Homo sapiens: one gene and its partners. The protein of the gene in region 3 purifies or fractionates together with the protein of the main gene of each other region. This does not show direct contact. Each region holds a gene or a part of one and is shown on either strand. Other genes may lie near its edges. The genes, in order: NIT2, CLIC4, ETHE1, PPA1, POGLUT3, SUCLG1 and CYB5A.

Region 1 (3,500 bases), on a different chromosome or scaffold from region 3:
AGAGAACAGCTTGAACCAGGGAGGTGGAGGTTGCAGTGAGCCAAGATCACACCACTGCACTCCAGCCTAAGCGACAGAGCAAGACTCCATCTCAAAAAAACAAAAACAAAAACAGAAAATGAAAGAGCATCTAAAAACACCAATGAGGAATAAATCTCACAAATGTTAAACAAAATTATACCCAAAAAACTATAAAAAGAAATTGAGAGAAAGTAAAGAAAGCGTAATAAATGTCAGGATATATACCACATTCATGGACTGGAAAACTTAATACTAAAAAGATATACTTCAAAGAGTTGGGTTAATAGTCCAATGCTGGCTGTTCTTCCAGCAGGTACACAGTAGCTCCTATCAGACCAGTTTTCTTGTGGTTAACTATGAACTCTGGACAAAATAAAAGGCACAACTACTTAAAGCACTGAAGAATGACCAAAACAAAGCAGACAAAATCTGAAGAGAAGAACACAGACATGTGGAAGCAGGGAACAGCCCTGGGTGAACTTCCTGGTGCTATTTACAGCTGCTACCCTGAAGCAAGGTCCCAGTTGCTGTGATAAGTAGTGGTGAAAATGACCCATAATCACACTGGCTTGAAGAACCAGAGCTGGAAACCAAGGGGGGAAATCCTGAAATGGAGAAAGCAAAGAGGGAGAGCCCTAAATTCTGCATATAAAATCTTTCTAAATCTCTGGCTGATCACTGAGTTAAATAGAAGTGGGGCAGAACAACCAGATAGAACAGAGCAGCTAAAGTTGCTGCCCACGTTTCAAAGAAGATAAGAGTTTGGTGTTTGGGTGCGGCCAAGTTAACCATCAGTTAAAACAAAATATTCAACACTTTTTGGAAGACTGTAATAGCATCTTGAATCTCTACAATATATAATCCACTGTACAATCTTAAATTAGTAGATACTCAAAGAAACAGAAGTGTGATCCAAACTGCAAAGAAAAGGCAATCAAATGAACACAGATCCTGCCATGACCCAGATGTTATAATTTTTTTCTTGTTGTTTGCTTGGATATGAGTTTATTTACATCAGGGGCCTTTTAAAGGCCTAATAGTCTCATTCTGTGGCACACAGATGTGATAATTATCAGACTTTAAAGCAGCTATAGAAACTAACTAAGCTCAACACTGTAAAGAAAAATATGCTTTTAATGAACAAATAGAAAATATCATAGAGTAATAAAAACTATAAAAAAGAAGCAAAGGGGTATTTCAGAACTGAAAATTTTAATATCTCAATTTTTTAAAATTTCACTGGGTTGGCTTACGGGAAATTGAAGAAGACAGAAGAAACAGTGAATAAGTCTGAAAGATCAACAGAAATTATCTAATCTGTAGAAGAGAAGGAAAAAGTATTGGAAAGACAAAAACAGAAAAACAGAGCCTGGTGACCTTGGAAAAATATTTAAAAATATAATATACATATACTGGAGCTCCATAAGAAAAAGGAACAGAAAAATATTTAACAAAATAGTGTCAAAAAACTTCCCAAACACAGTGAAAGATTTAAATTTACAGTTTCAAGAAGTACCAAGGAAGGCAAAGACAAAGGAAACCACATCTAGGCATATCAGAGTCAAAATACTAAGAACTAAAGATTATGAAAACACTTGAAAGAAGGAGAGAAAAAACAACAAATTATATCCGAGGGAACAATACAAATTACTACTCACTTCTCATCAGGGAAGAAAAAAAAAAAGGCTAGATAACAACTACTAGTGGAAAAAAAGGAAAACTATCAATCCAAAATTCTATTCCAGCAAAAATATCTTTCAAGAATGAAAACAATGTAAAGATATATTCATAAAGAAAAACTAACAGAATTCCTAGCTAACAGATCCTCAGAACAAAAATTCTAAATGAGATCCTTTGGTCTGAAGGATATACCAGATAGAAGGAGGATCTTCAGGAAGGAAAGAAAAACACCAGAAATGATAAATATTTGGGTAAACATAAAGATTTTTTTCTTCTTAATTTCCTTAAAATACATATGACTATTTAAATCAAGTATTCCTGTTTTGTGGGATTTATAACATATATACATGGAATACAAATGACAACTATAGCATAAAGAATGAGGGCAGGGGCAGTGGGGTAGAAAAATGGACCTATATCATTATAAGGTTCTTAAATTTCACATGAAATGATATAATATGAACTCTTAAGTAGCCTGTGAAAAGTTAAGGATGCATATGATAATTCCCAGGGCAACAACTGGAAAAAAAAAAAAAGCTAAGATGTATAACTAAAAAGCCAATAGATAAATTAAAACAGAACTCTAAAAAATATTCAATTAATCCAAAATAATACAGAAAAGATGAACAAAGGGAAAAAAAAGTAAAATGTCTCTATCCCTAAATTCAATCATATCAATAAGTGCATTAAATATAAATGGACTAACCACTTCAATTAAAAGACACAGATTGTCAGAATAAAGAAAAAATTAAGATACAATTATATGCTGTTGACAAAAGAGATCCACTTAAAATATAAAAACACATATAGCTTGAGAACAAAGAACTGGAAAAACCACGTACCAGCAAACATTAGGCATAAGAAGGCTGGAGTGGCTATAGTGATAGCAGAGATAAAGCAGAATTCAAGACAAGAGGTATTACAAGAAAAAAAAGAGATATTTCATAATGATAAAAGGGTCAACTCATCAAGAAGACTTAATGATACTAAATGTATATGATTTTTTTTTTTGAGATGGAGTCTTGCTCTGTCTTGCCCAGGTTGGAGTGCAGTGGCGCAATCTTGGCTCACTGCAGCGTCCACCTCCTGGGTTCAAGCAATTCTCCTGTCTCAGCTTCCTGAGTAGCTGGGACTATATAGGTGTGCACCACTACACCCAGCCAATTTTGTATTTTTAGTAGAGATGGGGTTTCACCATGTTGGCCAGGCTGGTCTTGAACTCCTGACCTCAGGTGATCCACTTACTCAGACCTCCCAAAGTGCTGGGATTACAGGCATGGGCCACTGCACCTGGTCATGTATACGCATTTAATACTAAAAAGATGGCAACTCTTCCCACAGTGTTCTCTATATATTCAATGAAATACTAATAAAAATTACTATAGGTTGGCTGGGCACGGTGGCTCATGCCTGTAATCCCAGCACTTTAGGAGGCTGAGGCGGGTGGATCATGAGGTCAGGAGATTGAGACCATCCTGGCTAACACGGTGAAACCAAGTCTCTACTAAAAATACAAAAAATTAGCTGGGCATGGTGGTGGGCACCTGTAGTCCCAGCTACTCGGGAGGCTGAGGCAGGAGAATGGTGTGAACCCAGGAGGCAGAGCTAGCAGTGAGCCAAGATTGTGCCACTATACTCCAGCCTGGGTGACAGAGCGAGATTCTGTCAAAAAAAAAATTACTATAGCTTGTTCCTTTGCAGAAATTGACAGGCTGAGTCTAAAACTTATATAAAAATGCAAATGGCCAAGAATAACCACCTGTGCCAATCAGTCAAAACCCTAATACATGTGTGATATA
Region 2 (3,500 bases), on a different chromosome or scaffold from region 3:
TTTTTTTTTTGAGACAGAGTCTCACTGTCGCCCAGGCTGGAGTGCAGTGGTGTGATCTTAGCTCACTGCAACCTCCGCCTCCCGGGTTCAAGAGATTCTCCTGCCTCAGCCTCCTGAGTAGCTGGGATTACAGGCGTGCACCATCATGCCTAGCTAATTTTTGTATTTTTAGTAGAGATGGGGCCAGGAGTGGTAGCTCACGCCTGTAATCCCAGTACTTTGGGAGGCCGAGGCGGGCAGATCATGAGGTCAGGAGTTCAAGACAAGCCTGACCAACATGGTGAAACCCCATCTCTACTAAAAATACAAAAATTTAGTTTTTATAGAGATGAGGACTCACTATTTTGCCCAGCCTATAATTTTTTTTTTTTTTTTGAGACGGAGTCTTACTCTGTCGTCCAGGCTGGAGTGTAGTAACACAATCTCAGCTCACTGCAACCTCCGCCTCCCAGGTTAAAGCAATTCTCCTGCCTCAGCCTCCCGAGTAGCTGGGATTACAGGCGCCCACCACCACGCCCAGCTAATTTTTGTATTTTTAGTAGAGACAGGGATTCACCATGTTGGCCAGGCTGGCCTTGAACTCCTGACCTCAGGCGATCCACCCACCTCGGTCTCCCAAAGTGCTGGGATTACAGGTGTGAGCCATGGCAGTGGGCCTATCATTGTTATTTCTTATTTCTTATACCAATATCTGGAACTGACCACTGAGAGATAAGAGGCAAGTCTCGAAATAGACAATATAATTAAAAGCCATGAGAAAATTCACTAGCTGATGCCCTAAATTACATTTACATGTCTTAAATCATCCTTGGACAATAGGTAACCATGACCTAATGTCATTTTCCTTCAGAAAGTCCCTTTCCATTCTCTATGCAAGCGTCTAAAACAGGCAAACCCATCCTAGCTTACTCCTCTACTTGACCAAAATCTTAACTCATGCCTTAATCACACTTCCCATCCTGCCTAACACATTTTCCTTTTATGGACTCACAATTCCCTACTCAGGGGACATCAGAACACGGAGGCTCCACAGCTCTAACGAAACAGGAAGCGGAAAAGGATGGCTCACCATCCTTACTTACTGGCTTCTAGGCACCTCTGCAGGCATCTTCCCAAACCAACTGTGACATTTCCTGACAGCCAGGTTCTTCTCCCAATTGCCTCTTTCCTATCATTATTCATACTCTGTTAAGCTTTTCGTGTGCTCAGTCTCCTAGGCTCAAAGCCTCCTGCCTCTTCCCCATTCTAGGCTCCTTTCTCACAGGTTTTTACATTAAACCAAAATCATCAAATTTGGCCTTTGCCAAAAGTAGCATTATTAGGTCTTCAGGAACAGCTCAGGCAAAAAGTTAAAATAATAGGTTTTCATTAACTTCATACTTTACATTCATTTCTGTCTCCTGAATTTTCCCCCCGGAAACCTCAAATGAATGGCAAATCAATTAGATTCAAGGTAATATTGTCTGAATATTGAGTTAGCTTTTGTTAATTACCAGAACAGTTTTCAGCATCATTTCCTATAGAAAATTTATTTCATTTTTTTCTGTTAGAAAAAACAAAGACGGGGGGAAGTTTGAAGCCTGTCCTTGAAACAATATAAAGAATTCCCACTTTAAACTGTCAAAACAGTCCATCTGTACAATCCATTTGCACCTTCCCAAGTGCCACTGAAAAGTTATTAAACAGACAGCAATCCAAAAACACAGGAAAGTGTGGGGAGAATGAAAAAAGTTAGGAAAATGTATACATTAACAAAAACCCAAGTTAGGTTTTAAAAGTCTCATCCTCAACTTTTAAATAACTTGTCTCCCTGGCACTATAGATCTGAATCACTCCTGGTTCCTTCTTAGGTATCAATCTACCAATTGTTTCCTGCATAAGGAGTTTCCACATAATGTCAAAACTCACATTCCCATTCTTGGCTATTCCGAACCCACCTATTCACCTCCTTTTTCAAGGTCAAGTTTAAGCCTCCTTCCATCTTTCCCCATGTCTCCTAGCCCTACTTAATGTGAGCCCCACTTGACTCTTTAAGCATGGACCATCTTGTATTGTTTTCTTTCCAATAAAATTTGTAAACCTAAAGAAATTAACTGTTTAATAATTTCTTATATCTTCCATAGTACTTAACTCAGTATTAGCACTTAGTTCATGCCGGTACATTCTTTAAGTCATAGTTAATAATAACTAGAAGAGACCTTTGTGATCATCTAGCCCAAGCCCTTCTTTTATACCTTGCTTATATAAAGTATTCTTGACTCTAAGAATTCCACTATTTACTTCTTTTAGAACAGTGGTTCTTAGCCTTGGTTTAGGAATTTCCAGAAAAAAAGCCTCACATTAGAATTTTTTACTGTAATTTCAAGGATTTACAGAACTCCCTGATCCTACTAATAGAGCCCACATTTAAAAATAATATACTATTAGGCTGGGCGCGGTGGCTCACGCCTGTAATCCCAGCACTTCGGGAGGCCAAGGCGGGCAGATCATGGGGTCAGGAGATCGAGACCATCCTGACCAACACGGTGAAACCCCATCTCTACTAAAAATACAAAAATTAGCTGAGCATGGTGGCACGCGCCTGTAGTCCCAGCTACTCCAGAGGCTGAGGCAGAAGAATCGCTTGAACCCGGGAAGCAGAGGTTGCAGTGAGCCAAGATTGCACCACTGCATTCCAGTCTGGCGACAGAGCGAGACTCCGTCTCAAAAAAAAATAATAATAATAAACTATTATCGATGACAAAAGCAGGTGTTTACTATGTGTCAAGCACTCTTCCTAAAGCTTTACATAGGATGGTATACGGTTAGACCACACTTGCCAGCCTCTCTTGCAGATGAAGCTATGTGATTAAGTTCTCTCCAATAGAATGTGACCGGAAGTAACAGGTAGAACTTCTGAGCTGGGGCCCTTAAGATGTGCTTCCTCCATATTTTCCACCCCCCACTGGCAACAGACAGTACTTGTCACCCACCAACTTTGACAATTCAGAAGAGGACAATGCTCTGGGAGTTAGTGGACAAATAAGCTAGAAAGAGCCCGGGTCCCTTAATGACTCTGAGGAGGAAAGCCACCCTAACATCTAAGACATTCTCCTGGACTGAGGGGTGAGAAATAAACTTCCATCATATTTGAACCACTGTTTGTGGGGGGATAACTTATTACAGCAACTTAAACTACCCTAACTAATATGCACAGATTAACAGTTTTAATCCCCTCAGTAACCATATAAAATTGCTATTATTATTATCCTGATATTAGAAGTTAGGAAACTGAAGCACTGAGAGCTTAAAAACTTGCCTGACATACTAGAAGCCAGATTCAAGTCAAGCAGTGTGGCTCCAGAGTCCAAGCACATTAGGAACCTCTGCCAAATATCTCAAAAGAAACAGACTCTTATGTGTTATGCCACCCTGCACCAGATTAACTTTTTACAAACACCACCCCAATCCCAGCAGCTTGGTGACTACTTGCTGACAGTGATCATCCCAGTTCACAGTGG
Region 3 (3,500 bases):
GAGATTCTGAAACTATACTCGCTTTCTACAGGGAAGCTCCTAAATCTAACTGCCCCTAGCAGCTAGACTCCAAATGGATCATTCATTGCTCCCTGGCAATTAAACCGCTGGCTTTAACAACTTCTTTTTTTATCTTTTTTTTTTTTTTTTTTGAGATGAAGTCTCACTCTGTCACCCAGGCTGGAGTGCAGTGGCGCAATCTTGGCTCACTGCAACCTCCGCCTCCTGGGTTCAAGTAAATCTCTGCCTCAGCCTCCCGAGTAGCTGGGACTACAGGCACCCACCACCATGGCCAGCTAATTTTTGTATTTTTAGTAGAGACGGGGTTTCACCATCTTGGCCAGGCTGGTCTTGAACTCCTGACCTCATGATCCACCTGCCTCGGCCTCCCAAAGTGCTGGGATTATAGGCGTGAGCCACCATGCCCAGCCCTTTGTTTTTTTTTTTTTTTTAGCTATATTTGTTTCTTAGAGAGGGAGTCTCACTATGTTGCCCAAGCTGGGCTCAAATAGGTAACTAACACACCCCTGAATCTAACTGTCCCCCAACAGCTAAGCCCCTGAATCTAACTCTTCCCATACTCTAGCATGGGGGTCCTTAACCCTGGGTACCGGTCCGTGGTCTGTTAGGAACTGGGCTGTGCAGAAGGTGGTGAGCGGTGGGTGAGTGAGCAAAGCTTCATCTGTAGTTACAGCCACTCCCCATCACTCCCGTTACCACCTGAGCTCTGCCTCCTGTCAGATCCGCAGCAGCATTAGATTCTCATAGGAGCACAAACTCTATTGCGAACTGCACATGCGAGGGATCTAGGTTGCGTTCTCCTTATGAGAATCTAATGCCTGATGATCTGTCACTATCTTCCGTCTCTCCCAGATGTGACCATCTAGTTGCAGGAAAACAAGTTCAGGGCTCCCACTGATTCTACATGATGGTGAGTTACATAATTATTTCATTATCTATTGCAATGTAATAATAAAGTGCACAATAAATGTAATGCATTTGAATCCCCGAAACTATGCCCTGCCATGGTCCATGGAAAAATTGTCTTCCACGAAACCGGTCCCTGGTGCCAAAAAGGTTGGGGACCACTGTTCTAGCAGGTAAACTCCTTGAATTTAATACTGAAGCCCCCTAAAAGTCTAATGTCCATCCATTCATTCTTGTAACAGATACTTCAACACTTGACACACACGTAACTATATGAAGATCTTGGGCTGGATAAAGGAGCTGGTCACCTTGCTGGAAGTCTGTCCGCCCACACCCACGGATCAACAGGGCATCTCCAGTGAAGGCCATGCTGTGGTCATTCAGGACGAAGGTGACACAGCCTGGGGTGTGGCCAGGGCTGGCCCTGGTCTCCAACGCCTGGCAGGGGTGGAAGAGTACAGAGATAGTCACCAAGAAGCCTTCTAGATGAAACTGGCCCCCAAAGCCCCACCCTACCCCAGGGTCTTATCTAGATAAACATTTTGGTAAAAAATGTAGATTCCCAGGCTGTAATCTTATATTATCAGAGTAAACTCCAAGTGGATTAAAGATTTAAATGCATGAAAAATAAAACCGCAAAGCTGTGACACACAACAACAAAAATACAAATAATATCTGACCTCTGGTTAGGAAGGTGATATGGTTTGGCTGTGTCCCCACCCAAATCTCATCTTGAATTGTAGCTCCCATAATCCTCATATGTCATGGGAGGGACCAGGCAGGAGGTAATTGAATAATGGGGGCAGGTTTTTCCCATGCTGTCTCGTGATGATGAATAAGTCTCACGAGATCTGATGGTTTTATAAAGGGCAGTTCCCCTGCACACTCTCTCTTGCCTGCTGCCATGTAAGACAGGTCTTTGCTCCTCCTTCGCCTTCCACCATGATTGTGAGGCCTCCCCAGCCATGTGGAACTATGAGTCCATTAAACCTCTTTTTCTTTATAAATGACCCAGTCTTAGGGATGTCTTTATTAGCAGCATGAGAAAAGACTAATACAGTAAATTGGTACCAGTAAAGTGGGGTGCTGCTATAAGGAGATGTGAAAATGTGACTTTGGAACTGGGTAACAAGCAGAGGTTTGAACAGTTTGGAAGGCTCAGAAGAAGACAGAAAAATGTGGGAAAGTTTGGAACTTCCTAGAGACTTGTTGAGTGGCTTTGACCAATATGCCGAGAGTGATATGAACAATGAAGTCCAGGCTGACATGGTCTTACATGGAGATGAGGAACTTTTTGGGAACTGGGGTAAAGGTCACTTTTGTTATGTGTTAGCAAAGAGACTGGCAGCATTTTGCCCCTGCCCTAGAGATCTGTGGAACTTTGAACTTGAGAGAGATGACTTAGGGTACCTAGTAGAAGAAATTTCTCAGCAGGAAAGCATTCAAGAGGTGACTTGAGTGCTGTTAAAAGCATTCAAGAGGTGACTTGAGTGCTGTTAAAAGCATTCACTTCAGTTTTATGTATTCACAATGATATGGTTTGGAATTGGAACCTATGTTTAAAAGGGAAATAGAGCATAAATGTTTGGAAAATTTGCAGCCTGACAATGTGATAGAAAAAAAAACCCATTTTCTGAGGAAAAATTCAAGCCTGCTGCAGAAATTTGTATAAGTAACGAGGAGCCAAATGTTAATCACCAAGACAATGGGAAAAATGTCTCCAGGGCATGTCAGAGGTTTTCACAGCAGCCTCTCCCAACACAGGTCCAAAGGACTAGGAGAAAAAATGGTTTCATGGGCAGGGCCCATGGCCTTGCTGTTTTGTGCAGTCTCAGGACTTGGTGCCCTGCATCCCAGTCGGGGCTAAAAGGGGCCAAGTACAGCTCAGGCCATTGCTTCAGAGGGTGCAAGCCCCAAGCCTTGGTGGCTTACACGTGGTGCTGGGCCTGCTGGTGAACAGAAGTCAAGAACAGAGGTTTGGGAGCCTCCAGCTAGATTTGAGAGGCTGTATGGAAATGCCTGGATGTCCAGGCAGAGGTGTGCTGCAGGGGTGAAGCCTTCATAGGGAACCTCTGCTAGGACAGTGCAGAAGGGAAATGTGGAGTGGGAGCCCCCACAGAGAGTTCCCACTGGGGCACTGCCCCTAGTGGAGCTGTGAGAAGAGGGCCATCGCCCTCCAGAACCCAGAGTGTTAGATCCACCGAGAGCTTGCACCATGTGCCTGGAAAAGCCACAGATACTCCACACCAGCCCGTGAAAGCAGCCAGGAGTGGGGCTGTACCCTGCAAAGCCAGAGGGGCAGAGCTGCCCAAGACCATGGGAACCCACCTCTTGCATCAGCATGACCTGGATTTGAGACATGGAGTAAAAGATCTTTTTGGAGCTTTAAGATTTGACTGCCCCACTGGATTTAGGACTTGCACGGAGCCTGCAGCCCCTTCATTTTGGCCAATTTCTTCCATTTAGAATGGATGTATTTACCCAATCCCTGGATCCCACTGTATCTATGAAATAACTAAACTTGCTTTTGATTTTACAGGCCCATAGGTGGGAGGGACTTGCCTTGTCTCAGA
Region 4 (3,500 bases), on a different chromosome or scaffold from region 3:
AGTAATAACTTTTTCTAATTTATTTTGCAGAAAATGAGAAAGGACAATATATATCTCCATTTCATGATATTCCAATTTATGCAGATAAGGTAAGGCATCCTTGTTTTTGGACACAGTCTCTTTACTCAGATCAGCTAGTTCTACATATGAATTTTCTTATATGTCTCTCAACAAGTGCTTAAAATGCCTCGTTGTGCTGTGAGCTAAAGGTCTGTTGATTAGGCTGGGCGTGGTGGCTCACGCCTGTAATCCCAGCACTTTGGGAGGCTGAGGCGGGTGGAGGGCTTGAGTCCAGAAGTTCAAGAACAGCCTGGGCAACATGGTGAAACCCTGTCTCTACAAAAAATACAAAAATTAGCCGGGCATGGTGGCATGTGTCTGTAGTCTCAGCTACTTGGAAGGCTGAGGTGAGAGGATCGCTTGTGCCTGGGAGGCAGAGGTTGCAGTGAGCCGAGATGGCACTACTGTACTCCAGCTGGGTGACAGAGTGAGACCCTGTCTCAAAAAAAAAGGTCCATTGACTAAATAAGAAGTTAGTCTTAAAACTAGATTATTTAGTTAAAGGAGCAAATATAATTTGGGGAAGGAGAGGAGGAGTAAAAGCAAAAGTATTTAATCTGTCTTGGAAAAAAAAAAGAAAAAATTACATTGGTCCTTTTTGTATGTGTATTTGGAACTAAAGTCGTAATACTTCATTACTGGTTCTAAAATAAACCAGGTAGCCAGCACAGAATTTTGGCTGTGGGATCTTTATGAAACAGTAAAAGTAAACTAGATTATTCAATGAGTATAGGAAAATTTAGTAACGGGCTAGTACCGTTAAGATTTGCACAGTTAAGATAGAGTTAATACAGGTAGGCACACAGACTTCTAAAAGGACATAGCTGTTCCTGTATACACCAGTGAGAAGAAACCTAACTTTAATACAGATTGGTAGGCTTACCACAAATTGTAAAAGTCTTTACTTTTCTAGGGGAAAAAGAAGTCTACAACTGTATACACCAGAATAGCTGAGTGTGGGGCAATTGTAATCCCACTTGGGAGGCTGTGCTGGGAGGATCACTTGAGTCCAGGAGTTTGAGACCAGACTGGGCAACATAGCAAGAACCTGTCTTAGGAAAATAAATAACAATAAAATATATATCAAAATAGTTATGATTCGTGGGACTGCCAGTGACTCTTGGTTTTATTTTCATTTTTGTCTTTTTATATTGTCTAATCTTTTTACAAAGAACATGTGTTATAAGAACAACTTTAAACAGTCATTTTAAAAAACACATCTTTTCTTACTCTCCTTTCCAATGGAAGCAGTTTGTACTGTATTTAGCAACTTAACACAAGGACAAATATCTTATTCTTTTTCTACCTTTCAGTTTTTTTCCTTCAGTAAGGAAGTTTGATTCACATTGAGTACAAAGGTTTTTGAGTTGTAAGAGTTACATAGGTTATTGACTTTCTTTAGCTAGATGTCAATATACAACACGAACATCACTTTGCAGTGCACGTCTAGAATAATAGTAATTTTGTTCTTGTGTGTGCTGTCTTACTGTTTTTCTGGGCCTGACTATTAGATAGAAATAGACACATTCATTGCACTTCTACCAGGAAGTTTGCTGCAGTTCTGTACTGCCTGAAATTCCAATTTTTACATTGCTTCCCAGGAGCCTTCCTGGGTAAGACTCCAATTAGAGGCAATGGAGCAAACAGCCCTAGGCCAATTATGTGCCACAAATACAGGAGGGACTTCTAATTGGCATGTGTTTTTCCTGTGGGAGTGTCAGAGTGGTATTTATTCAGAAACTCGAATTTGTTACATCTGATTTCCTGGGAGTTGATATAAACTGCAGAATCCTTCCCTCTTCAATTGGCCCCATTGGGTTGGCTTGAATTATCTGCTTGTTGTATAATAGCATGTATATCATACTGTAGCATCTCAGACCATTTTGAGCAATGAAGAGGTATAAAATGATGACCCTAAGTTTATTGATAATACCCTGGCATACAGGTATGCTACAGGTAGGAAAACATTTTCTTGACATAGAGCTATTTTCCCAGTGTTCTAAGTGACTGTATTCCTACCAAGGACCAGAATGATCATAGATGTTTTGGTACCTACTCTTATTGCTGCTTCAGGTTACTCCAAAATAGGAAACAGGCTACATTTTGGTGTCCTGTTAAGTGTGTTCACTTAGATTACTCTCAGACACTGAAGCCTTATAAGGGACTGGTTGTGTCTATAAAGTGGATTACTCAAAGGAAGACTCTGCCCTTGGCACGCCCTGTCCCAGCTCAAAAGCACAAGTTCTTATGACTCTGGATTTTACCAGTAGTCTAGACCTCAGTGGACCTTGGGCAGAAGCCTTCCTGCCTGAGAGGCTGGAAGGAATTCTTTTGTTTTGTTTTAAAGGAAGTTACTTGTTTAAAACACAAATAAAGGTGTGGTAGACATCATTTTGGATTATAGCCTTAAAAAAAAAATCTGATTAACTTGATTCATTAGAGTGTGATTTTCTTTCTTTTGTATAAAAAATCTATTGTGATTAAGTTTACATGAATACATTCTCACGGGCTTGGCCTTGGACTTTATTCCTAATATGGTCAGTCATCCGAGGGATTATAATGAGGGAATGTCATGATCTAGTGAGCATGTACCTTTAACACAGCTCAGTCAGCTCCACTAAGGAAAAATGTCCAAGGGCTCATATTGATATCAGACTAAGGAAAAATGCCCAAGGGCTCATATCCATATCAGACTTTTTTTTTTTTTTTTTTTTTTTTTGAGATAGGGTTTCACTTTGTCACTCAGGCTGGTGTGCAGTGGCATGATCTTGGCTTACTGCAGCTTCAACCTCTCAGGCACAAGTGATCCTCCTGCTCCAGCCTCCTGAATAGCTGGAACCACAGGCATACACCACCACGCCCAGCTAATTTTTCTATTTTTTTGTAGAGACAGGGTTTCCCTATGTTGCCCAGGCTGGTCTCGAACTCCTGGTTTCAAGCGATCTGCCCACCTCAGCCTCCAGAAGTGCTGGGGTTGCAGGCGTGAGCCACTGTGTCCAACCCATATCAGGACCTTTTAATGTGGATATTCAGTTTGGCATATGCCATTAGGTAATCAGTCCAGCCAGTTCTGGAAAATCTTGTGACTCGCGTACCCTGCTTTGATTATTTCCGAATCCAGTGGGTAGAGAAGGTAAAGGCAAGGGCTCACTGGATATTTTTAAATTGTAGGGATGTCCTTTGCTCTGGGTCAATTTTAGGATCAAATATAAAAGCACCTATAGCTCAGAGTATCTTCTAACATAAAACTTCTGAGATACCAGAAATTTTCCAAAACATGGTATAAACAGTATGAAACACTGGGTAGATAAAAGCTTTCTCTAAATCTTAAAGTGCTCAAATATCATGACCTGATTTTTTAGTTTTAGAAATCAGATATTTTTCTATTCCATATCTTAAACTTTCATGTTAAATTCTAGTTCTGACAATGTAGGGTTCTA
Region 5 (3,500 bases), on a different chromosome or scaffold from region 3:
ACTTAAACCACCTTTTGTTCTTGTTTCTGATCATACAGGGTGAAGGATGGAGGTGGGCAATATTTATCTTTCTTACTTAGAGAGACCATAAAGGGAGTTTTTTTGTTTGTTTGTTTGTTTGTTTGCTTTGAGATGGAGTCTCACTCTGCCACCCTGGCTGGAGTGCAGTGGCACGATCTCGGCTCACTGCAACCTCTGTCTCCTGGGTTCAAGCGATTCTCCTGCCTCAGCCTTCTGAGTAGCTGGGATTACAGATGCACGCCATGCCTGGCTAATTTTTGTTTTTTTAGTAGAGAAGGGGTTTCACCATGTTGGTCAGGGTGGTCTCAAACTCCTGACCTCGTAATCTGCCCGCCTTGGCCTCCCAAAGTGCTCAGCATGAGCCACTGCGCCTGGCCAAGGGAGTTTTATAAACCAAAAAAAACACAGTTTTCCTGATATGTTATACAATTCCCCAAGTATGCTGACTGTGTGGCTGCAGTCAGTTCTTACTTTAAATAGCAGTCCCCAACCCCTCCACCACCAGCCCACAATGTGAGGATACAAGCATGTGATGGGCATCTGCTCCTAAAGGTAGTGCTCTCTTCCCGGGCTACAACTAGTCAACTGTGCCCTGTATTCTTGCCTCTTTAATCCATGTTGCTGGCTTCATAGCAGTAGATTTCAACCAGGGATGATTTTGCCCCTCAGAGGACATTTGCCAATGTCTAGAGACATTTTTGGTTGTCACAACTCAGGGGTTGCTATTATCATCTAGTGGGTAAGCATCCTACAGTGCAAAGGATAGCACCCCCCAACCCCATCGCAAAGAATTATCCAGCCCCAAATGTCAATAATATGAGCTTGAGAAACCCTACTCCACAGTGAGCACTTCCAATGTGGAGTTTATTAAAGAGTTTATAAATAATAGCAGGGAGGCTGGGCACGGTGGCTCACACCTGTCATCCTAGCACTCTGGGAGGCTGAGGCAGATGAATCATTTGAGGTCAGGAGTTTGAGACCAGCCTGGCCAACAAGATGAAATCCCATCTCTACTAAAAATACAAAAATTAGCCGGGTGTGGTGGTGCGTGCCTGTAGTCTCAGCTACTTGGGAGGCTGAGGCACAAGAATCACTTGAACCTGAGAGGCAGAGGTTGTGGTGAGCCAAGATCACGCCACTGCACTCCAGCCTGGGTGGCAGAGTGAAACACTGTCTCAAAATAATAATAATAATAATAATGACAGGGAAGCAAGAGGGTGAATATTCACATCTCTTGCCCTTTCCTTTTGTTCTTTGCCCAGTGGCTGGGGAAGAAATAAATCTAAGATAAGTGAGACTCAGTCCTAGTCTCTGAGTAGCCCACTGTAGTGGGATTTGTTTTTGTTGTTTGGAAGTGGGGGTGGGATGTGAATACAAACAAATAATTATATCCCAATATGATGATAGGCCTCAAGAGAATTAAGTACCTAGGGTTTAAGTGCCTGAGGAGGGTGAGTCATAGAAGAGGTGGTGTTAGATCTGGGCTTGGAGGATGAGAAAGGAGACTGCCAAGTTAAATAAGTAAAACATTCCAAGTGAATGGAATTACATGTTGAGGTGGATGGCATTTTCAGAGAGTAGCCTAAGGTTTCCTGGTAGGTGGGCAGATGAAAGATGAGGCTTATAGCCAAGCTGGGACAAGATTGTGAGGCCTTGAATGCCAGCCAGAGAGTTGAGATCTTGTGCCATAGGCTTAAGGTTCTGTTAAGCTTGGTAGTGACATTAACAAAGTTATTTTAGAAATTTTAGTTTTAGAATTAATTTTAGTTTTGGAAATCTGAGCAGCCTTGTGGAGAGCAGATTACAGTATGGAGAGCCCAGAATCAGAACACCTAGTAAGGAAGTTATTGCAGCAATCTAGGCAAGAAATGATGAGAGTCTAAACTGAGACATTGACCGTGGAGATGGAAATGGACTGGCAGGTTCCAGAGGCAAGGGCACATGAGGCAAAGATGGGGACAGTGAAGGAAAACAAGGGTTTGGTTCTAACTTTGTAGATTCTCTTGCTTAGGCAGCTGGCAGAGGGTTATCGAAGCTATTCATTCTTACCTCTCTACACAATTTTCACTTCTCTAACACTACATTTTATTTTATTTTATTTCTTTTTCTATTTTTTTGGAGACAGAGTCTTGCTCTGTCGCCCAGGCTGGAGTGCAGTGGCGCGATCTTGGCTCACTGCAACCTCTGCCTCCCAGGTTCAAGCGATTCTCCTGCCTCAGCCTCCTGAGTAGCTGGGATTACAAGTGCCTGCCACCAGCCCAGCTAATTTTTGTAAGTTTAGTAGAGACAGGGTTTCACCATGTTGGCCAGACTGGTCTTGAACTCCTGACGATCCACTCGCCTCAACCTCCCAAAGTGCTGGGATTACAGGTGTGAGCCACCACGCCCAGCCTCAAACACTGAATTTTACATGCATCTCTGGACAGAGGTAGCTGACTCCTGGTTAAGTGAATTTGTCATGCAGGATCCTCACAGGTGACAAATTCACAGCCATCCTGTCAATGACAGGCATTCTTCTCTCTTCTCTGTTTTTGAATGGTTAGCCCTGTCAAAAATATGTAAGAAAACCAAAGAACTGTTGTACTTAGTACCAAAGACTGAGATCTTCCCAGCACTGATGTTTGTTTATATGTTTATTTAGGTCCTTCTCCCAGATTTAGAATTTTATGTTAATCTTGGAGATTGGCCCTTGGAGCATCGAAAAGTCAATGGAACCCCTAGCCCCATACCTATCATTTCATGGTGTGGCTCTCTGGATTCAAGAGATGTTGTCCTTCCAACGTATGACATCACCCACTCCATGCTTGAAGCCATGCGGGGTGTTACAAATGATCTCCTCTCTATTCAGGGAAATACAGGTATTCAGGGAAATGCAAGGCTAATTAATGAAGAAAAAGCTTAGAGACAGAGTGGGTTATACATATATGTTTGCATTCAGTAGCATATTAGAAAAAGTCTTGTACTGAAAATTCTGACCAACCTAGGGATTAAAGATTTGTGGATGTTCCTCAGTTATATAGTTTTTTCTGGTCACCCTTTGTAAGAACAAAGGGCTAGCTCACGTTTTATTGTGAAACACAGAAAATGGAAGAAGCTAATGCCTTGGTGAGTGGACCCAGTCACTGAATCTCTTTTTTGCTTTGAACACGGTCCGACATTATTTCAGGTATTTCCTAGTATTATACAACAGAATACACGAATACTTGCGTGAGCTTTCACTAGCAGACAAATGGATGAAATTAGAGCATTCTTTTACATAATACAGCAAATAAAAAGACTGTTTTTTTTAAACTCTAAACTTGAAAGTGCTTCTGGCAAATTGAGACTCAATCCCATATTTTCGTTGAAATAACATCTACTTTAGAAGATGAGTTGATAAAAGAGCTTTAGCATCTTAAATGACAATGGTAGATTAAAGAGGATTATGCTTGCCATATTAAAATGTCAAATTCATAATCCTAATTTTTTTATGGCTTCAA
Region 6 (3,500 bases), on a different chromosome or scaffold from region 3:
TCTATTATGGCTGATTTTATAACCTCAAAATATAGAGAGGAGATGTTTTTTTACAATTCCTCTAGGTTGACTTTTCTTTTGTCATGAGCCTCTTTTTGCTTTTTTTTTTTTTTTAAAGAAAGTTCTTCTTGCTAAGCAATCCATTTATAATTTATAGTGACACAAATAGTTGTGACATTTGGAATATTCTATAAGTTTTTTGACAGATATTGTTTATTTTTCACCCGTTCTGCTCTTACAAAGGGCTTTTTGAATGAGTAGGGTTGGTACCTTTCATCCATATGACGTCCCAGCACAATATTTGCTGTTGTCACAGTATAGCTTCTGGCAGTATTTGTAGACTTTAGAGGTAGAAAACTATGTAATGTAGGTACTTTTCATTAAAGTACCTACATCCCCATGATGTGACTTTTTTTGATTCCATACTAGTTTTAATGTTTTTTGTGTCTCCCCCTCTGTTATCATCTTGAACAGAGTTTTAAAAAATTATTTTTAACCCCCGGCATCATTTGTGGATGATATGTTGGCATTCTTTGACTCTGTTCACTGTCAGGCTGCTTTCAGATTTACTGACATGCCATAGAGAGTGAGATGTCACAGAAGCTTTCAATTCACAGTGGCATTCAAATGGGCTGAGAAAGGGCTATGCTTGATTCTGTTCTACTCTGACAGTGTAGCAAATTTGAGAATGGGAAGAATGCTATGTCTCTGGGTAGTGTCCTTTTCTTACCCCAAGACATTATTAAAATGATGGTATTGAATTTATTTTACAATGTTTATGATTTAACAAATAATAAGGTGCTTCGTCGTTAATGTTTCAGGCCAAAGAACAGACAGGAGCAACGGCTTCTGTCATTTATGTTCCTCCGCCTTTTGCTGCTGCTGCCATTAATGAAGCTATTGAGGCAGAAATTCCCTTGGTTGTGTGTATCACTGAAGGAATTCCCCAGCAGGACATGGTACGAGTCAAGCACAAACTGCTGCGCCAGGAAAAGACAAGGCTAATTGGGCCCAACTGCCCTGGAGTCATCAATGTGAGTGCAAAAAAACAAAAAGAAACTCAGATTAAGCCTCTCACAAGGCTAAACAGCTTTGAGTGAATGCGAGTGTATTTGTGTGTATGACCTGTGAGTGACTTTTTTTTTTAACATTTCTGAAAACTATGATTACTTTCAGCCTGGAGAATGTAAAATTGGCATCATGCCTGGCCATATTCACAAAAAAGGAAGGATTGGTGAGTTTGTTTGTTACATTCTTATAGATTAAAACGTTATTTGCCTTAAACCCTCAAAACTCACAAAGAATTTTTGACTTTGCAAATCAAGTTTAATTAATTTGACTTGAGTAGAATTTACCAGGGAAGTTTTGTAGTCTATCAATTCTGTATCTTGAATATAATGAGTTTATTTGAGAAGCCGTTACAATTCTGCAGAATCAGTGAAGATTTTTTTGGTGGTGGGAGTTTAAAGATTTTTTTCTGCTCAGCACTCTGTGGATTACTCCATGTGTTTGCATATATCAGTAGTTAATTTCATTAACTGTTATAACTTAGTTATTGCTAAGGAGTATTCTGTTGTATAATTATACCACAGTTTGTTTATTCATTCTCCCATTAATGAACATTTGGGTTGTTTTCATGTTTGAGCCTTACAAACAAGGCTTAGGTCAACATTTGTGTACAGGTCTTTTTGTGGAAACATTTTCGTTTCTCTTGGGCAAAATGTGTAGGAATGGAATTGCTAAGTCATGTTCATATGAACATAAGTCAAGTATATTTAACTTTATAAGAAACTGCCAAATAGTTCTGCAAAGTGGCTATATCATTTTATATTTTCACCATTAATGTAGGAGAGTTCCACTTGCTCCATATCTTCACAAAGATTTGGTATTGTTAGTCTTCATTTTTTTGAGACAGAGTTTTGCTCTGTCGCCCAGGCTGGAGTGCAATGGCTCGATCTCGGCTTACCCCCACCTCCGCCTCCCAGGTTCAAGTGATTCTCCTGCCTTAGCCTCCCGAGTAGCTGGGATTACAGGCATGCGCCACCACGCCCAGCTAATTTTGTATTTTTAGTAGAGACGGGTTTCTCCATGTTGGTCAGGCTGGCCTCGAACTCCCGACCTCAGGTGATCTGCTGGCCTCGGCCTCTCAAAGTGCTGGGATTACAGGCGTGAGCTACCATGCCCGGCTATTAGCCTTTTTAAATGTAGCCATTCTACTGAGAGTAAAATGGTATCTCTTGTGGTTTTGAGTGTCCCTGATGACTAATAATGTAGAGCACCTTTTCATGTGCTTATAAGGCCATTCACATACCTGCTCAATAATTACCTTGTTCTTTTAGATATCACAAACTTTCTCAAAATGTTTTAGGTTTGTAGGCACCTTAGAAAGCAGGGCAGTGATCAGAAAGGGAACTCAGATGGCCTGTCAGGAAAATTGCCCTGCTACTTGGTTAGTTCCTTGAGGAAATAGCCAAAGTAACATTTCAAAGTTAGCCACATTAGGCTTGTGTTTAGGCTTTACACCAAAATTTCTCTAAACTATACTGTTTTTCAGTCATGAAAGATGATTGACCATATTTTTCTCTATCTATAAACCATGGCTACTAATAAGGGTAATTAATTGTCACAGTGGGTGTCGGCTGTGCAGTTTACAGAATTGGGTTAAAGATCATGATTTTTCTTTATTACCAATGTCTCTTGGAGCTGTCAGCCCTGCTGCCAGTGGCAGTACTTGATAATTTCATTTACAAGAGAGATTTCAGGGAGCTCCATAGGCCATCTGAGTTCCAGTGGGGCCAGATCCATGTATCACTGATGCTCTTGTACATATTTGAATATTTCTTATATTCTTGGGTCTGTTTTGAAGGCTGTGGTCTTAAGGTGAGCATGGAAGGAATGCTCTGTGCTGAGTTGCCTTTCTGATCACTGCTCTGCTTTCTAAGGTGAGCATAAACCTAAAAAATGAAAATCAAGAGAAGTTCAGGGAAGTCCTTTAGACCTTGCCTTTGTGAATGGTCATAACCCATTGATGAGACAGTCGTCTGGGAGACTGCTTTTAATTCCTTTGAAAAAGGACTTTTTTTTTTTTTTTAAAAAAAAGAAGAAAATATGTGACACTGTGTCCAGAGTTGGTTCCTTCCAGTGGGTTCTTGGTCTCGCTGACTTCAATGAAGCCGCGGACCTTCGCAGTGAGTGTTACAGCTCTTAAAGGTGGCATGGACCTGAAGAGTGAGCAGCAGCAAGATTTATTGTGAAGAGTGAAAGAGCAAACCTTCCATGGCATGGAACAGGACCTGAGTGGGTTGCAGCTGCTGACTGGAGTGGCCAGCTTTTATTCCCTTATTTGTCCCCTGCCCGTGTCCTGCTGATTGGTCCATTTTACAAACCTCTAGCTACAGAGCGCTGATTGGTGGGTTTTTATAGAGCACTGGTTAGTGCATTTTACAAACTTCTAGCTAGCTACAGAGCGCTGATTGGTGCGTTTTACAATCCTAGCTACA
Region 7 (3,618 bases), on a different chromosome or scaffold from region 3:
CAAGTGATCCGTCTGCCTTGGCCTCCCAAAGTGCTGGGATTACAGGCGTGAGCCACTGAGCCCAGCCAAGTGGGGCATGAGTTTTCTCATAAAGCCAGCAGGGCAGAGTGATTCCTAGTATAGCAGGGCATGTGTTACACTCATGTCACTTTTAGCAAATCCACGTTGCCTTTTCAGCAAAATTCATTACAGAGTTAAGAAAAACATGCCCTGGTAATTTTCTGTTAGAAGGAGCAAAGATTTTGAGTCCACCACAGTGCACATCATGTCAGCATCATTGCTTTTTGTGTCTTTCTAGTTGGTGGACCAACTGGGTGATCCCTGCCATCTCTGCAGTGGCCGTCGCCTTGATGTATCGCCTATACATGGCAGAGGACTGAACACCTCCTCAGAAGTCAGCGCAGGAAGAGCCTGCTTTGGACACGGGAGAAAAGAAGCCATTGCTAACTACTTCAACTGACAGAAACCTTCACTTGAAAACAATGATTTTAATATATCTCTTTCTTTTTCTTCCGACATTAGAAACAAAACAAAAAGAACTGTCCTTTCTGCGCTCAAATTTTTCGAGTGTGCCTTTTTATTCATCTACTTTATTTTGATGTTTCCTTAATGTGTAATTTACTTATTATAAGCATGATCTTTTAAAAATATATTTGGCTTTTAAAGTATGCACCGTGTTTGCCTGTTTGGTGTATAATTGTCTTTAATGTTTAGAATCTGGTTATTTAGAGGATTCCTTCAATGTGTTACTCATCCAGACCCACAGAGGCCATATGACTGGAGGTGCGGGAAATAGGTTTGAGTGTCTCCTTTCACATCGTCACATCTCATTGAGTAACCATGTATTGTATGCTTCCGATATAGTTTCTTTTTTTCAAGGAAATTAAGAAAGGCCAGAAATTATAGTTTAAGGATTTCTAATAATTGTCCTACTTGAAATAGATCTTAAAAAGAAAGTAGCGGCTGGGCATCGTGGCTCACACCTGTAAGCCCAGCACTTTGGGAGGCTGAGGTGGGTGGATCACTTGAGGTCAGGAGTTCAAGACCAGCCTGACCAACATGGTGAAACCCTGTCTCTACTAAAAATACAAAATTAGCAGGGCGTAGTGGCGCATGCCTGTAATCCCGGCTACTTGGGAGGCTGAGGCAGGAGAATTGCTTGAACCCAGGAGGCAGAGGTTGTAGTGAGCTGAGATCGCGCCGTTGAACTCCAGCTGGGCAACAAGAGTGAAACTCTGTCTCAAAAAAAAAAGAAAGTAGCCTACAGGGCCTATAAGAGAGACTTCTTATCTTCACTGATTGAAAAACATCAGCAACTTAAAAACACATGAACCATGAGAGGGCATCGCAACTGTCCATTCTCTCAGCTTACACGTATCATTGCAAAGGCACTCACAGCTTCATAGGTTCTAAAGTTTTAAGAATTCCTCATTCAGAGAGTAGAATTGTTTGTAAACTCTTCTAAGGAAAGGCTGGTTTTCTAATTTGTAAGGAGATTGTGGGACATTGGAATCTGATCTTTGAAGAAATTTAGCGGCTAGTGTCAAGCTCTGAAGAGTTCTGGTGTGGCTCTGTCTCCTCCTGGGGGCTCTAAGGGGCTGATTCAGTCATCTTACTTCCCATTTATTATTCTCTGCCTTATGTGTTATTCTTTTAAATGTGGAAACTTGAAAGCTGAATTTGTTAGAACCCAGTACATGTGTCATTGGCTGTGACTGCATTTGCACTGGCATGAGCTGACAAACCACGAGGTTCTTCAGAAGTGACCGCGTGCAGTGGAAAGGAATTGTGTTGTTCTTACAGAGTACAACCTTTATAATCAAATAGGATGCACCGCCTTTGCCTTCTTTAGTCACTGAAAGTTGACAAGTAGTTTCTATTTCAAAATAAATTACAACACTTGTTAAGGGACCTATGTAAATATTTCAATATTTTTGGTTGTGATTTTTAGCTATAAAGCTTCACATTTTAGTAGTTTTTAAAACATTGCTCCTAAATCAACTATGAAGTGAATCGAAGTGGGTCAGTCGTACCTTAGATGACATTAAAGGGTTAACTTGTAAATCATTTTTAAGATGTTGAGTAATAGCATCTGTATATCGTTAAGAAACATAACAGTTGAACTTTGACATTTTTATCAGTGACTCAGCAATTTGCTGCTGTGGCTGGCAATGTTTCTTCATGTGTTTTGGGAACAACATGTGGAGTAAAGGAGAGTTTACTTCCTAATTTTAACATTTACAGTTTGTGCAGCCAGACTCTCAAGGAAAGATATTTGACACTTTTTTCTCTATTGCTTTCCCTTCAGAGAGGTGAGAGACTTCAGAGGCTGCCCTTTCTTTTCATCTGCTGCTTGTGAAAGGAAAACATCTTGGGCCCCCAGAATCACTAAGGAAAACTCAAGCTGGAAACTGCTTAGGGCCAACCTGCCTCCCATTCTACTCAGTCAAGCCTCTGCTCACTGAGAGAGAGGCATATCTGATTGCTTCCTTTGGAAAGGCTAATCAGAAACTCAGAAGAATGCAACCCTTTGTGTCTCACCTCTCTGTGACCTGGAAGCTCCCTCCTGCTTTGAGTCTTCCTGCCTTTGCTTCAAGGTGTCCCGCCTTTCCAAACAGAACCAATGTACTTCTTACATATATTGATCAATGTCTCATGTCTCCCTAAAATGCATAAAACCAAGCTGTGCCCTGACCACCTTGGGTACATGTCATTAGGACCTCCTGATGCTTTGTCACGGGCATGTCCTCAACCTTGGCAAAGTAAACTTTCTTTTTTTTTTTTTTTTGTTTTTGAGACAGAGTCTCACTCTGTCGCCCAGGCTGGAGTGCAGTGGTATGATCTTGGCTCACTGCAACCTCCGACTCCCAGGTTCAAGTGATTCTCCTGCCCCAGCCTCCTGAGTAGCTGGGACTACAGGCGTATGCCACCATGCCTAGCTAATTTTTTTGTATTTTTAGTAGAGACGGGATTTCACCATGTTAGCCAGGCTGGTCTTGAACTCCTGACCTCAGGCAATCCACCCGCCTCAGGCTCGCAAAGTGCTGGAATTACAGGCATGAGCCACTGTGCCGGGCCTATTCCTTGACTTTCTTAATAAAGTTGTTTTCACTTTGCACTGCGGACTTGCCCTGAATTCTTTCATGTGCGAGGTCCAAGAACCCTCTCCTGGGGTCTGGATTGGGACCCCTTTCCTGTAACACAGGGACTGTATTGGGTGCACGTGTGTCAGTTGCTCACCTCCTGGGTTTGAGTTGATGATTAGGGCTCTGGTTGGAACAGGCATCTCCCTTCCTCTGGAGGTGTCTAGATGAAGGCAAGTGGAAGTTCTGGAAGCAGATTCTCCTTTGCAGCGTAGCCTTTCTGAGAGGTGTGCAGACACAGATGGCGTCCGGATCCTCAGCTTCTACCTAGATTGTGGGAGTTTCCCTAGGCTGCTGTAACCAAGTACACCACAACTGGGTGGCTTAGAACGACAGAAATGTGTTCTCATAATTTAGAGGCCAGACGTTGTAAATGAAGGTTTCAGCTGGGCCACTCGCCCTCCGACACTCTGGGTGGAATCCTTCCTCACCTCTTCCAGCTGCCACTGGTGGCCAGCAGTCCTCACCTGGCGGT

The links.
Region 1: the proteins of ETHE1 (region 3) and NIT2 fractionate together in Homo sapiens (co-fractionation; one large-scale study listed by BioGRID). This does not show direct contact.
Region 2: the proteins of ETHE1 (region 3) and CLIC4 fractionate together in Homo sapiens (co-fractionation; one large-scale study listed by BioGRID). This does not show direct contact.
Region 4: the proteins of ETHE1 (region 3) and PPA1 fractionate together in Homo sapiens (co-fractionation; one large-scale study listed by BioGRID). This does not show direct contact.
Region 5: the proteins of ETHE1 (region 3) and POGLUT3 fractionate together in Homo sapiens (co-fractionation; one large-scale study listed by BioGRID). This does not show direct contact.
Region 6: the proteins of ETHE1 (region 3) and SUCLG1 fractionate together in Homo sapiens (co-fractionation; one large-scale study listed by BioGRID). This does not show direct contact.
Region 7: the proteins of ETHE1 (region 3) and CYB5A fractionate together in Homo sapiens (co-fractionation; one large-scale study listed by BioGRID). This does not show direct contact.

Annotation. Positions count from the first base shown.
Region 1 is NC_000003.12:100,341,257-100,344,756, reverse strand, and holds part of NIT2 (omega-amidase NIT2), read right to left. Parts: intron 1-3,500. UniProt on the Homo sapiens protein: Has omega-amidase activity. The role of omega-amidase is to remove potentially toxic intermediates by converting 2-oxoglutaramate and 2-oxosuccinamate to biologically useful 2-oxoglutarate and oxaloacetate, respectively.
Region 2 is NC_000001.11:24,751,947-24,755,446, reverse strand, and holds part of CLIC4 (chloride intracellular channel protein 4), read right to left. Parts: intron 1-3,500. UniProt on the Homo sapiens protein: In the soluble state, catalyzes glutaredoxin-like thiol disulfide exchange reactions with reduced glutathione as electron donor. Can insert into membranes and form voltage-dependent multi-ion conductive channels.
Region 3 is NC_000019.10:43,510,202-43,513,701, forward strand, and holds part of ETHE1 (persulfide dioxygenase ETHE1, mitochondrial), read right to left. Parts: intron 1,366-3,500; coding exon 1,236-1,365; intron 1-1,235. UniProt on the Homo sapiens protein: Sulfur dioxygenase that plays an essential role in hydrogen sulfide catabolism in the mitochondrial matrix. Hydrogen sulfide (H(2)S) is first oxidized by SQRDL, giving rise to cysteine persulfide residues.
Region 4 is NC_000010.11:70,226,930-70,230,429, reverse strand, and holds part of PPA1 (inorganic pyrophosphatase), read left to right. Parts: intron 1-30; coding exon 31-89; intron 90-3,500.
Region 5 is NC_000011.10:108,481,385-108,484,884, reverse strand, and holds part of POGLUT3 (protein O-glucosyltransferase 3 isoform 1 precursor), read left to right. Parts: intron 1-2,662; coding exon 2,663-2,879; intron 2,880-3,500. UniProt on the Homo sapiens protein: Protein glucosyltransferase that catalyzes the transfer of glucose from UDP-glucose to a serine residue within the consensus sequence peptide C-X-N-T-X-G-S-F-X-C. Can also catalyze the transfer of xylose from UDP-xylose but less efficiently.
Region 6 is NC_000002.12:84,438,781-84,442,280, reverse strand, and holds part of SUCLG1 (succinate--CoA ligase [ADP/GDP-forming] subunit alpha, mitochondrial precursor), read left to right. Parts: intron 1-821; coding exon 822-1,034; intron 1,035-1,176; coding exon 1,177-1,234; intron 1,235-3,500. UniProt on the Homo sapiens protein: Succinyl-CoA synthetase functions in the citric acid cycle (TCA), coupling the hydrolysis of succinyl-CoA to the synthesis of either ATP or GTP and thus represents the only step of substrate-level phosphorylation in the TCA.
Region 7 is NC_000018.10:74,250,346-74,253,963, reverse strand, and holds the end of CYB5A (cytochrome b5), read left to right. Parts: intron 1-298; coding exon 299-380; 3' UTR 381-3,118; downstream 3,119-3,618.